2 separate regions of the Homo sapiens genome follow, and region 1 is linked to region 2. The links come from fine-mapping of genetic effects on gene expression. A gene starts in region 2. The other region holds a variant in brackets. All regions are shown on one strand. Distances are from middle to middle.

Region 1 (5,382 bases), 39 kb before region 2:
AAGTGCTCTATAACGTGTTTTTCCAAATCTAAAGTACTAATTTTGCATTGATAATACCTTTAATACCTTAAGATTTCTTAAAATTTAATTCATTTAATCATGGTTAAAGGGAAGAATGTGAACAAACTGGTAGTGATCTCCATTATAATAATATTAATAATTTAAAGATTTATATTGCAGCAGCAAAATAAAATTACACACACATACACATATCAGTTAGTCATTTTGGAGTTTGGTTAGATGGCCAGTAATACTGCAGTAATAGAAATGTTTTATTTGAAAGAGTTTCACTAAGAATCTACAGTATGTATATACTGTATATTTTCATCATTGGCTGAATACCCTAGCTATGGGCTTGGTCTCAGCTCCTCTTCAGAACAAACAAATACAGCTAAGGGTGGCACAACCAGTTAACCAATAATTCAGGCAAAAATAAATTAAACATATATTCTATCCCAACTTATCAGCAGATAAAGCCTTTAAGCATACATACAGGAAAGTTATCCTATAGTATCTTAACAGCATATGAAAAGAAATATCACTTAATAAGAATTGGTATAACTTTAGCTCAAGAAAAAGCTTGATGAGTAAGGACACCCAAATCACATTTGGAAAATAAATAAAACCAGAGTCCTAGAAAAATTAGAAAACAAAAGCTGTATTAAGGAACCACAAAGTCAAATATCTGGCTAGATGTTTTTTTTTTTTTTTAAAGCAGTTCAATGTTGAAGTTCATATTGGTCTTAAGTAAGCCATTCTTTTATTAGTATTGCAGATTAAGTGATAAGTAAAGTAATTCTCTGCTCAGAGCCCTGTCAGTGGTGACTTCAGGAGCAAAGTTAACTAATAAAAGTGTGTGTATTAACACTAAACACTACAGAAAAAGTACCAAACCAAATTATTTTATTTCATTTCGTATATTTTTTCTTTTTTATCATTCCTAGAAGTCATAGTTTATCTTTTCTCTTTAACCATACTTAGAAGTCATATTTTTTATACATAAAGAGTTCCTCATTCTTTATCTTAGGAAATATTTTATAGAAGCATTTAGAGATCAAATTCAATAACTTTGTGTGCGTGGGCAGGTGGGTGTGTACATACGTATATAGATGCCATGCTTTTCTCCTAAAGAAGCATGACTTTTTTATTCACAATTATAGCAATGATTTCCTTATAGTCTGTTCCTATAGACATCAAGACCAGATTGATTTTCATTAAATAAACTAGTGAAAATGGATTTTGTGACATTTCTAAAAAGTAATAGTTTCAGAACCTTATGATAAGCAGTTTATTTAGCTACTCAACAAGTGGCTAAATATTTCTTATTTATGCAGTATCCGTAGTACTTTCACTCTTTAGTGTTGAATGAGTTTTTTCTAGATTTCTATACATGAAAATGTATAACCACTTTCTACCATTGATGAGAATGAAGTAAAATCGAGATACAATTTCACTATGAGATTGTCATATGAATATTTCGACTTTTTCTTCCATGTTCAATTTTTATCCAATTTTAACTGACCTTATTTTTAAGAGCTGTAAATGTCACAAGTTAAACATGTAAGAAAACACATTTGCAGCCGGGCGCGGTGGCTCAGGCCTGTAATCCCAGCACTTTGGGAGGCCGAGGTGGGAGGATCATGAGGTCAGGAGATGGAGACCATCCTGACTAACACGGTGAAACCCCGTCTCTACTAAAAACACAAAAAAATTAGCTGGGCGTGGTGGCAGATGCCTGTAGTCTCAGCTACTTGGGAGGCTGAGGCAGGAGAATGGCGTGAACCCGGGAGGCAGAGCTTGCAGTGAGTGAAGATCGTGCCACTGCACTCCAGCCTGGGTGACAGAGCGGCACTCCATCTCAAAAGAAAAAAAAAAAAAGATAATATATTTGCTTGTGGTTTTTGAGTCTAATACACTAACTAGCAAACTTTTATCTAAGGGTTTGTAATGCAAATTGATTTACTGAATTATAACAGTTATGAGGTTACTTTTAAAACTTAGTTTAAAAAACAATACAGATTCACATACCCAAAGTTACCCGGAAGGCAACTTTCTTTCCTAAAAAGTCCAAAAATTTTAAGAAAGAGAAAACATGCCCGTATCTTGGAGTATGGATAGAATTCCTTATCAGCCCCATTTAAAGCTGCCTTCAAGGATTTTATTAAACTTAATTATGAAAGATTACAAATGAGATGGTGTGTAATTGGTACCAGCTGCAGTTCGTACTGGAAAGTATAAATACAAATGAAATTATTTATTTTTATTTATTTACTATTCAAATGGCGATTCTGAAACCAGTTGGGAAAAAACTGACTTTATTCTTTTTCTATTGAGTTTAAAATACTTTACTTAATAACAACAGTAGAGACAAATATCCCATTTAAAGACTACTTTCACCCCCAAATAACCCAAAGAATGAAGGAACACAAAGCAATTTTCTTCCCTCTATCTAATTAGGAGCTTATTGTTTTTATATCAGAATTAATGATTTGGGACCAAATTCTCCTCAAGCAACTATACGAATTTAAAAACATATAAATCTATGTATCTATCTATCTAATTTCTTATTGAGATTCTTCCTCAAGCATTAAAAAAAAGCTAAACAAAGAAGGGCAAGGAGGAAAAGGAGACCGCACCTGGGGAGGACGGCTGGGTGGTGTGCTGATGAG[G/T]GGGGCAGGACCCATGGCCGAGGCAGCATTCAAGCTCCTTTCCCTTTCGTCCTGGTATATTCGGTCTCTTTCAGCTTCCGGTAACTGCAAGAAATTCTGCATAGCCCGAAGGTTTACCAGCAAAGACTGGGATGCAGTCTTGGGGTCCTCTTCCTTTCGGAGGATTTCTGAAAGCAAGCCCTGCAAGAAATGAAAGGCACAGGGTGAGCCTGCTGCCTTGCTTTGCCTGGCCAGCAGTGATCCTTCCCTTTTCTTCTCCACTCTGTTTAGAAAATGAACAGTCAGAGGCATTAATTCTGCATAGGAATATATTAGTTACAACTGAAGTGGTAGAGAAGAGAGCCTCAATTGTATTCTTAATTTTATTAAGCATCTGCTTTACATATAACATAAACTGAAACTGCCTAATTGGTCTCCTTCCTTTGAGTAGCTTAACTTGCCATGAAATCTTTCACAGAGAGACGATCCAGGGAAGTTAAGAATAAACGAAATCCTTATAATGCAACAGCACTGAACTGTATAGTTCCCAAGCTGCCTAGACAAAGGCAGTGTAATGCCTACAGCCCAATATGTAAAGATACAAAGCCATTTCTAGAGAAGTAGAACTTTCAAAGAAAATACCAGAAAATGAATTTTAACATATTAGAACAAAGGTTATTACTAAAGCATCACCTAAGGTTTATGCTGTATTTTCACAGGCAATGTTTAAAATTATTCCTTAAACTCTGACTTATCAAAGTACATGACACTACGTGACCCTTTCAATTTACCATTTTCAGAGAACCTCACTGATTATCACAAATGATTCTAAATACTATCTTGCTGTATTATACCACTGGGTAACAGGTTTAAATTTTGAACTTTAAAAACCATAGACAAGATTTGAAATATATTAACTAATTTTCAACATTGCGAAAGTCCATCACAGCATGCCAAGGAAAAGAGTATCAAATTCTGTAATTATCAAATTTCTTGGGGAATAAAAATTGTTAGTGATAGAAGAAATTTATAAATCATTAGAAAACTCTTAAGGTGTCTTTCCCCCCTAAATAACAGAACATCAATTTTCAACTAATTTTTTTAACTTTTGGAAGAACTCTTTCAAAAATGGGTGGTTCTCCCCATTGCATTTAAGAGACAATATGAAATAAAAGAATTGGAAAATTTTCTGTTCATTTTATAAGGGCTAAGCAGCTCTTCTCTCTTTAATCTTGTACATGAAATAATGCTTGGAATAGTAAGACATATTTGGTTTCTTCACTTAGCCAGAGTATCAGCTTCAGAATAAAATTTTGTCAGGATTTCTATATAATTTGCAAATCTACTTTCCAATATCCTGCAGAAACAGTTAAAGGTATATTGGGGGAAGGAAGGTAACGTGTCATGTCAAAACAATGAAGCCCCAAGGTTAAAACATTTGTTTTTTTCATGGTTTGTTAGAAGTACAAACCTGGTTTTGTTCCCAAATTTAAAGATAATGTACCATGTTGCCGAAATGCAACAGTTGGGTGCAGACAATACAAAAGTACTGATACTTCTTAAAATGATTTATAAGCTGGTATTTAAAAAGAACTTTTAACAGGTGCAGAGGGCTTCAGAGTCCATTTTAAAGTTGTCTCTCACTTAGTCTCTTACAGCTAAAGCCTGGAAATTGGACCTGAACTTTCGTTTTTACCCTAAGAAATGTGACTGAAGAATGAAGGGCATGTGTCCTTAGGATACTAACGAGTAATGCTGTAACTGTGTCTACACAAGAGCAAAACATCTAGTCAATTTAACTAAAATTCAGTCAAACAGGCAGTCAATCATCCAGCTATTTAATTTGCACAAGGCCACCTAATTAGTTTGACTGTGTTTCTGATGTGCCATATTGAAAGTAAAACATTCAGGTCTCAAAAAAAAAAAGTTTGAAAATAGGTGTAATGAAATAACCCTTGCTCTTTACTCCTCTCCACCAAATGTTATGTCTTAAAAAATGTACTTGACAAAGCAATATATTCTCAACTACACAGATATGGATACATGAAAACATCAGTATAAACACAATATGCTACAAATTCCTTGAGCATAATAATCTAATATTCACTTTCATCATCCCAGCACAATGTCTCTCATGTAAATGTTTGATAAGTATTTACTAAATGGACTGATCATGTGTATAAAGACCACAATGGAGAAAACAATCACAAACAGGTGATAGAAACTTAAGAACAAGATGTGTTACCCATGAGTCAATTCTAGTAGTAGTTATTAGCACTCATGTTGGGCCTACAGTGAAAAGTTCTGTGGCATTTTTTGAGATGTTTTTCCTAATTGTCTAATAATTAAAAAAATTAGATTAGGGCAAAACATAGTTATAAATATTTAGGATGTTATTTGGGAAACTTGAAATTAGGTATTTAAAAATCCCAAATAACAAAGTACTATATCACATATTTCTATCAAAAATATTTCCTGAGGCAGCAGAGATCTATAGTGAGAAAGTCAAATACAGGAAAACATACAAAATAATATTCTTTCTCAAGTCTTGCTAACATATAAGACTAAGTCATTTCCATATGGTTGAGATTGGAAGGTAGTTATGTCACTTGGGAGAAAATTTTAAAAGTTCTCTACCTATATTTTGATGTTGGTGTGACTTCCTATTTAAGCATACAAGTGTTTTTAGGGGCAAAGCATTTTACTACCACTTAATTATTCTACTGGAACAAGG
Region 2 (5,382 bases):
GGGGGTGTAGACAACAGCATCAAAGTTAATGCTATAAAACATATTAAGTAATCATGAGGCTTAACAACACTAGAAACTGTACAGCAAATGAAAGTGATACATTATAATTTAATGTATTGACAATCTAAAGTATCATATAGGTCATGAAAAACTGTCCTTTGAATACCCACCTATAAGCATCTATTAAACACTAAGTCGTGGTGTAAAAAGCTTTACATTACAAACCAAAATTAAATGCGCATAAAACACCCAATTTACTCATTTTAACTCTATGCCCGGGCTAAAGTTCACCAAACCTCAGTTTGGGATTGAAAAGAGCAACCTCCAACAGGCCTGCTTGGATGACAGCAGCAGGAACTAACTATGGTCTCAACAGATGCCAGGCTGAAGAGTTTCTTTTGAGTTACACGTTACAACCCATTTTAGTGCAATGTCTGGTTGCCACACAGAAAGCAAGCTACTTTCTGAAAATCCCATTTATCTGCCCATAAACTAAGACCATATATGATAATTACTGAATAAAACAGTGAACTCAGTAACAACAATTATTTCCTTTAAAAGGAAAGAAAATCTCGAAATTCTAGTTTTTTAGGAACCGATTTTTTGCAAAGCGAGATCCTTTTCAATGAGTTTCTAGCTGGATCGCCTCCTTCGCCCCCACACAACCCCATAATCACATTTTAAGATTGTGCCCTTATCCATTCCATATGGCCGGCACGATCCAGGCCAAGCTTTCACTGTGACCTTTTAAAGAGACAAAGAAGCAAAGTACTATCTAGAAACAGAAACACTGCAGTTTTACTGAGTGAAATTAGCAAAACCGACCTGAAACTCACCACTTCAAAACTTGACAGCACATAAATAACAAAAACAAAGGAGATTTCCTTTGCAGCCCGGGTTCTTGAAGAGAAGTTCAAGACTGATGTTTTCTATGTCCTTTTTTTTTTTAATTAAAAAAAAAAAAATAAAAAAGCAGCAGACCTGAAGGCGACTTCCCCTGAAATTGTATTATTTTCCTTTCCCCTACCCCCGCCCCCCTAAGCGGGGGAAGGGCAGAAATAAACGTCTAGAAGAGTAGCCATGAGAAAGGGGTTTAAAAAAAAAATCACAATTCGAAAACCAACATATAGGGGTTTGTAAAATGTCTAACCTCAGAGAACAGGGTTTGCGATGGGGAGGAGGGGAGAGTGGGAAGCAGGGAGGAGGAAGAAGATAAAATTGATCTGACAAGTGATTCGTTGGGGGGAAATCGTAAAAACAAAGCAAAACCCGTTATGAGCTGTACACTGTGATGGTGCTGGGGAAACGACGTGGTGACTGAGGATTCTCTTAAAAAAAAAAAAATCACTGCGGACAAGGTCTCCAAAAAGGAAAAAAGGTCTCTTCGCGTCTCTCCCTCCCTCCTGCTCACTCGGGTTCTTCGGTGTGAGGACAGAAAGTCTACTTCTGGCTGTCACTTGCAATATTATTCTTCAATAACCCCGAATAACGCGCATTGGGAAGGCCACCTCGCCTCCCTTCCAATCACCCCCACCCCCCTCGCCAACAATCGCGACTAATATTAACAAACCTTAAACTTTTCCCCACAGCCTCGCACCCCCAACGAGGGCATCTAGCGGGGGACAGCGAGGGTGGGGGGCAGGGGGTCGCGAGAAAAGCCCCGGAAAGGCACTAAAATGCCACTTTTGATTCTGCCCTCGCTGACAACAGCCGCAAGGACCCTCTCCCTGCCCATTGACGCGGGGCTGTGAGCGTCTGGGGTCCCAGCAAGTGAGGAGAGAAGAGGTTCGGGGGGAGGGGGAGGAGGAGGAAGATCAGAAGGCACCCCCAGCCACCTCCACCGCCTAGGCAGCGACAAACTCCCCGCCCCCTCCCCCCAAAAAGTCGCCAAGCTCTCACTCGTCCAGAGTCCGAGGTAAACAACGAGCACCACAATGGCACTAGGACTTTGGGGGAAAAGAAACCCAGAAACCCCGACAAAACTGATCAGGAGTTTCCCGAAATGAAAGAGGGGGGCGGGCAGCGTCCTCTAGAGTCGCCCTGGCTTTCGGCTGGGCCCCCGGGCAGGATAGAGGGCGGCCGCGGCTGTTGTTGTTGTGACGAGGCCGGGTGTTGCTGGGTGGCACAGGGAGAGGTGTGTGTGTGTTTGTGTGTGTGCGTGAGTGTGAGCGCGAGTCCCCGGACGGGGCTGCTTCTCTCGCTCTCTCCCTCGCTAGCTCTACCCCTCGCTGCCGTCTCTGCCCCCATTAAATTATTAGTTGACTCATCCCGGCCGCTGTCGCTGCCGCCGCCGTGCCCCGCTCGGCTCCGCGCGTCCGCCCGGGCTGCAGCCCTCTCCGCCGCTGCTCCTGCTGCTGCTGCCGCCGCCGCCGCCGCTGCCGCTGTGGGTGCCTCTTCTTCCTCCTCCTCATTTTAATACAAAATCACCCCGCTCGCAGCCCCAGCCCCGAGCACGCAGCCTCCTCCCGGCCGCCCGCCGCCGCCCGGAGCCTTCCCCAGCGGGGCCGGCTCATCCGCCGCGTCCGGGGAACGGGAGCGAGCGAGAAAGTGGCGGCGGCGGCGGCGGCGGCGGAGGAGGAGGAGGGGGGAGGAGAGGAGGAAGGGGGTGCGGAGCCGAGGAGGAAGGCGGCGTGGGGGGGCAGGGTGCACGGAGCGGGCGGAAAAGGGATGGGGATTAAAACCCGGGCTGGAGGGCCGGGATTGGGGGAGGGGGCGGGGGCGGCGAGTTAAAAAGCCGAAAGACAAGTAACTAGTGAATGAGTGAGGGAATGGGGGGAGCGCACGATTTCCGGCCCCGGGCGCGCAAGAATTTGTAATGAGCTTGATTAGAGTGAGGCGGCCCGACATTTATTACACACAATACCCAGAATAACAGGGCGCTGTGCGAGGGCTAGCGCCGGCCGCCGCCAGACGCGCCAGGGAGGGCGCAGAGGGGAGGAGGAGAGGGGGCTTCCCTGGCAGCGTCCGCCGGAGCGGGGAGGGGAGCGCGCGGCGCGCGGGCGGCAGGGGCAGGTGTGTGAGTGGGAGGGAGGAGGGGCAGGACGGGCAGGACGGGCACGGGGGGCGGGGGGAAGGAAAATGACGGGGAGGAGGGGGCGAGGGCCAGGGGAGAAAACTAACCAACCACCCACACGCCACAAAAGCCACAAAAAGGAGTACGCCTGGAGCGTCGCAGAGGGACAGGCGAGGTGGGGGGACAGGGAGACGCACCGGCCCCGTGGGAGAAGGGCGCGGGTACGCAGGTGACAGGCGCTGAGGAATGAGGTAGGGAGCCATCAGGAAGTGGCTGGAGGGGTACAGACGGAAGGCAGTTCTCTCCGGGGAAGCGCGGAGGGTGCAGAAACGTGTACAGCAATAAAGGCCAGGAGCCTCGAAACGCTCGGAATGTTTATCCTCTAAGGAGGGTGGTCCTTAAACTATGAGGAGCCAACATTAGAAAGAACTGAGTAAGAGCGTTCTGTACTAGTCAGACGTTGGTTCAAATCGCCCTCACTTCTGAGCCATAGAATACTTTGGAAGAAGAAATACGTGGCCGAGTTAAACAAAATTTGGGTCACTTGAAAGAGACCTGACTTGTTATTATAAAGGAAAAGATGCCATCATTCTTCAAATAATTTACGCTAGGCAAAAGAGGAAAGTTTGGGTTGGTAAATACATCTGTTGTAGCAATAAACACTTCTGCTGTAATCTAGGGTAGGTTACCCAGTTAGATAAATGGTCATTACCACATAAGTATGATCCTATTATTTAGACAATCTATTAAATATAGTTCATGTAAAAATAAAGAATATTACAATGTAACCCAAAATAGAAATGCCTCATTTATCGCTTAGGTTTTAGTTCTACCATTTTAGCACCCTGAAGGCAGTTAATCATTAACAAAAAACAAGAATTATTTTTCAGAATTTGCTGGTAGGGAAAAGAGAAAAATCAGTCAGATAAACATTTTGTTACACATAAAAAAGCAACAAGTTAGCACAAGTACTGAGATAAAAGGGAAATTTGCAAATTAAGCTCTGTAAAGCCACCAATACACTCTTAGGCACACTGTTTACATTACAAATCTAAAGAAAAGCCAAAAGGTAAAGCAGAAAAGTGTAGGAAATGATGGCCTCCTAGGGGAGAGTAAGTTTAGGAGAAACAAAATGAAAATATATCACTCTAATAGCACCCACGTTTCACCCACAAACCAGAAAGGTTAGCCAAATCTGGGAAGGCAACCGTGAATCTTGGCACACAAACCCAAGCCTTGAGCAAAAGAATGAACATGTGATAAACAGAAAACACAGCATCAAAAATAGGAAAAGAAATTTAAGGCAAATTTTTAGTAAAAAGCCCAAATGATAGTAAATTTTTAAAAGTTAAAATGTGGGGAAATCTGAAGGAAGATATGTTAGCTAAAGTATAAGAAATAGAAATATGGTAGGTTAAATTTGAAATTTCCAATATGGATACTTTAATAGTTGCTTCAAACTAGTAATGCCTGACATGTTTCCCTGAAACCTGCCTTGTTTTCAGTAGGGACTGTGCACTCTAGTGCCTTGTTGTACAAATTTACAAACAATAGCAACATTTAAAAATAAAGAAAAATTATAGTGGTCCACACACACACAAATGTAATTTAGCCAGGCAATGTCACCTCAAGCTGAATGTTTTTTATAAAAGAAAAGAAAGCTGTTGGGCAAAATAAAATTTAAACTAAGAGAAAACACCACTAAACAAAGATCACGGGAAATATCAATATTAAGATAGACTGAAATAAAATATTGTAAACATGCTTATTACATCATTTTACAGAAATAAATAAGACAAAATGCCATCTGAATGTTTTACCCTCCTAATGACCTGGTGAATGCTAATATAATATGGGAATTAATACAGCAATCCTTAAATTTGAATAGCACCTTTTATCTGAGTCACAAATCTATTCAAAAACACAAAACATGAAAGTATGTAATAAGGACTGACATGGCCTTGGAAAATGATAAACAGAATAAATGAGCATAAAGGCATCTAAGAATGACTATATTATAATGAATAACAATATAGCACAATAAACTTTCCCTCAAGCACATTTTTTATTCCAGAACTATAAGAAATGACATAAGTAAAATGGCACATAGAGGTTAATGTACTAGTGGTATACATCACTGATGAAATTAATTACTATATATTAACTACCCTTTAGAATATTTCATTATAAGCCACTGAGTATTGGCCAGTGTAAAGCCAGATAAAAATAAATAACAAAAAAAGAAAGAAATTTGTCTTAGTCTGTTTTCTGTTCCTTATAACAGAATACCTGAAATTGGGTAATTTATAAAGAAAAGGAATTTATTTCTTACACTGTGGAGGCTGAGAAATTCCAGGTGGAGGGGCCTC

Evidence for each region. PIP is the estimated chance that this variant, and not a neighbour inherited with it, causes the effect.
Region 1: its variant is fine-mapped to the expression of SATB1 in whole blood (INTERVAL, PIP above 0.99).

Annotation. Positions count from the first base shown.
Region 1 is chr3:18,383,763-18,389,144 of GRCh38, forward strand. SATB1 (SATB homeobox 1) reads right to left here. Exons shown (of 11, transcript NM_002971.6): 8 at 2,637-2,849. Among named protein-coding and RNA genes, the nearest start is that of SATB1, 39 kb to the right of the region's middle. The variant G/T (reference allele first, on the strand shown) is at 2,670.
Region 2 is chr3:18,422,791-18,428,172 of GRCh38, forward strand. It overlaps SATB1 (SATB homeobox 1), which reads right to left and starts at 2,549. Exons shown (of 11, transcript NM_002971.6): 1 at 837-2,549.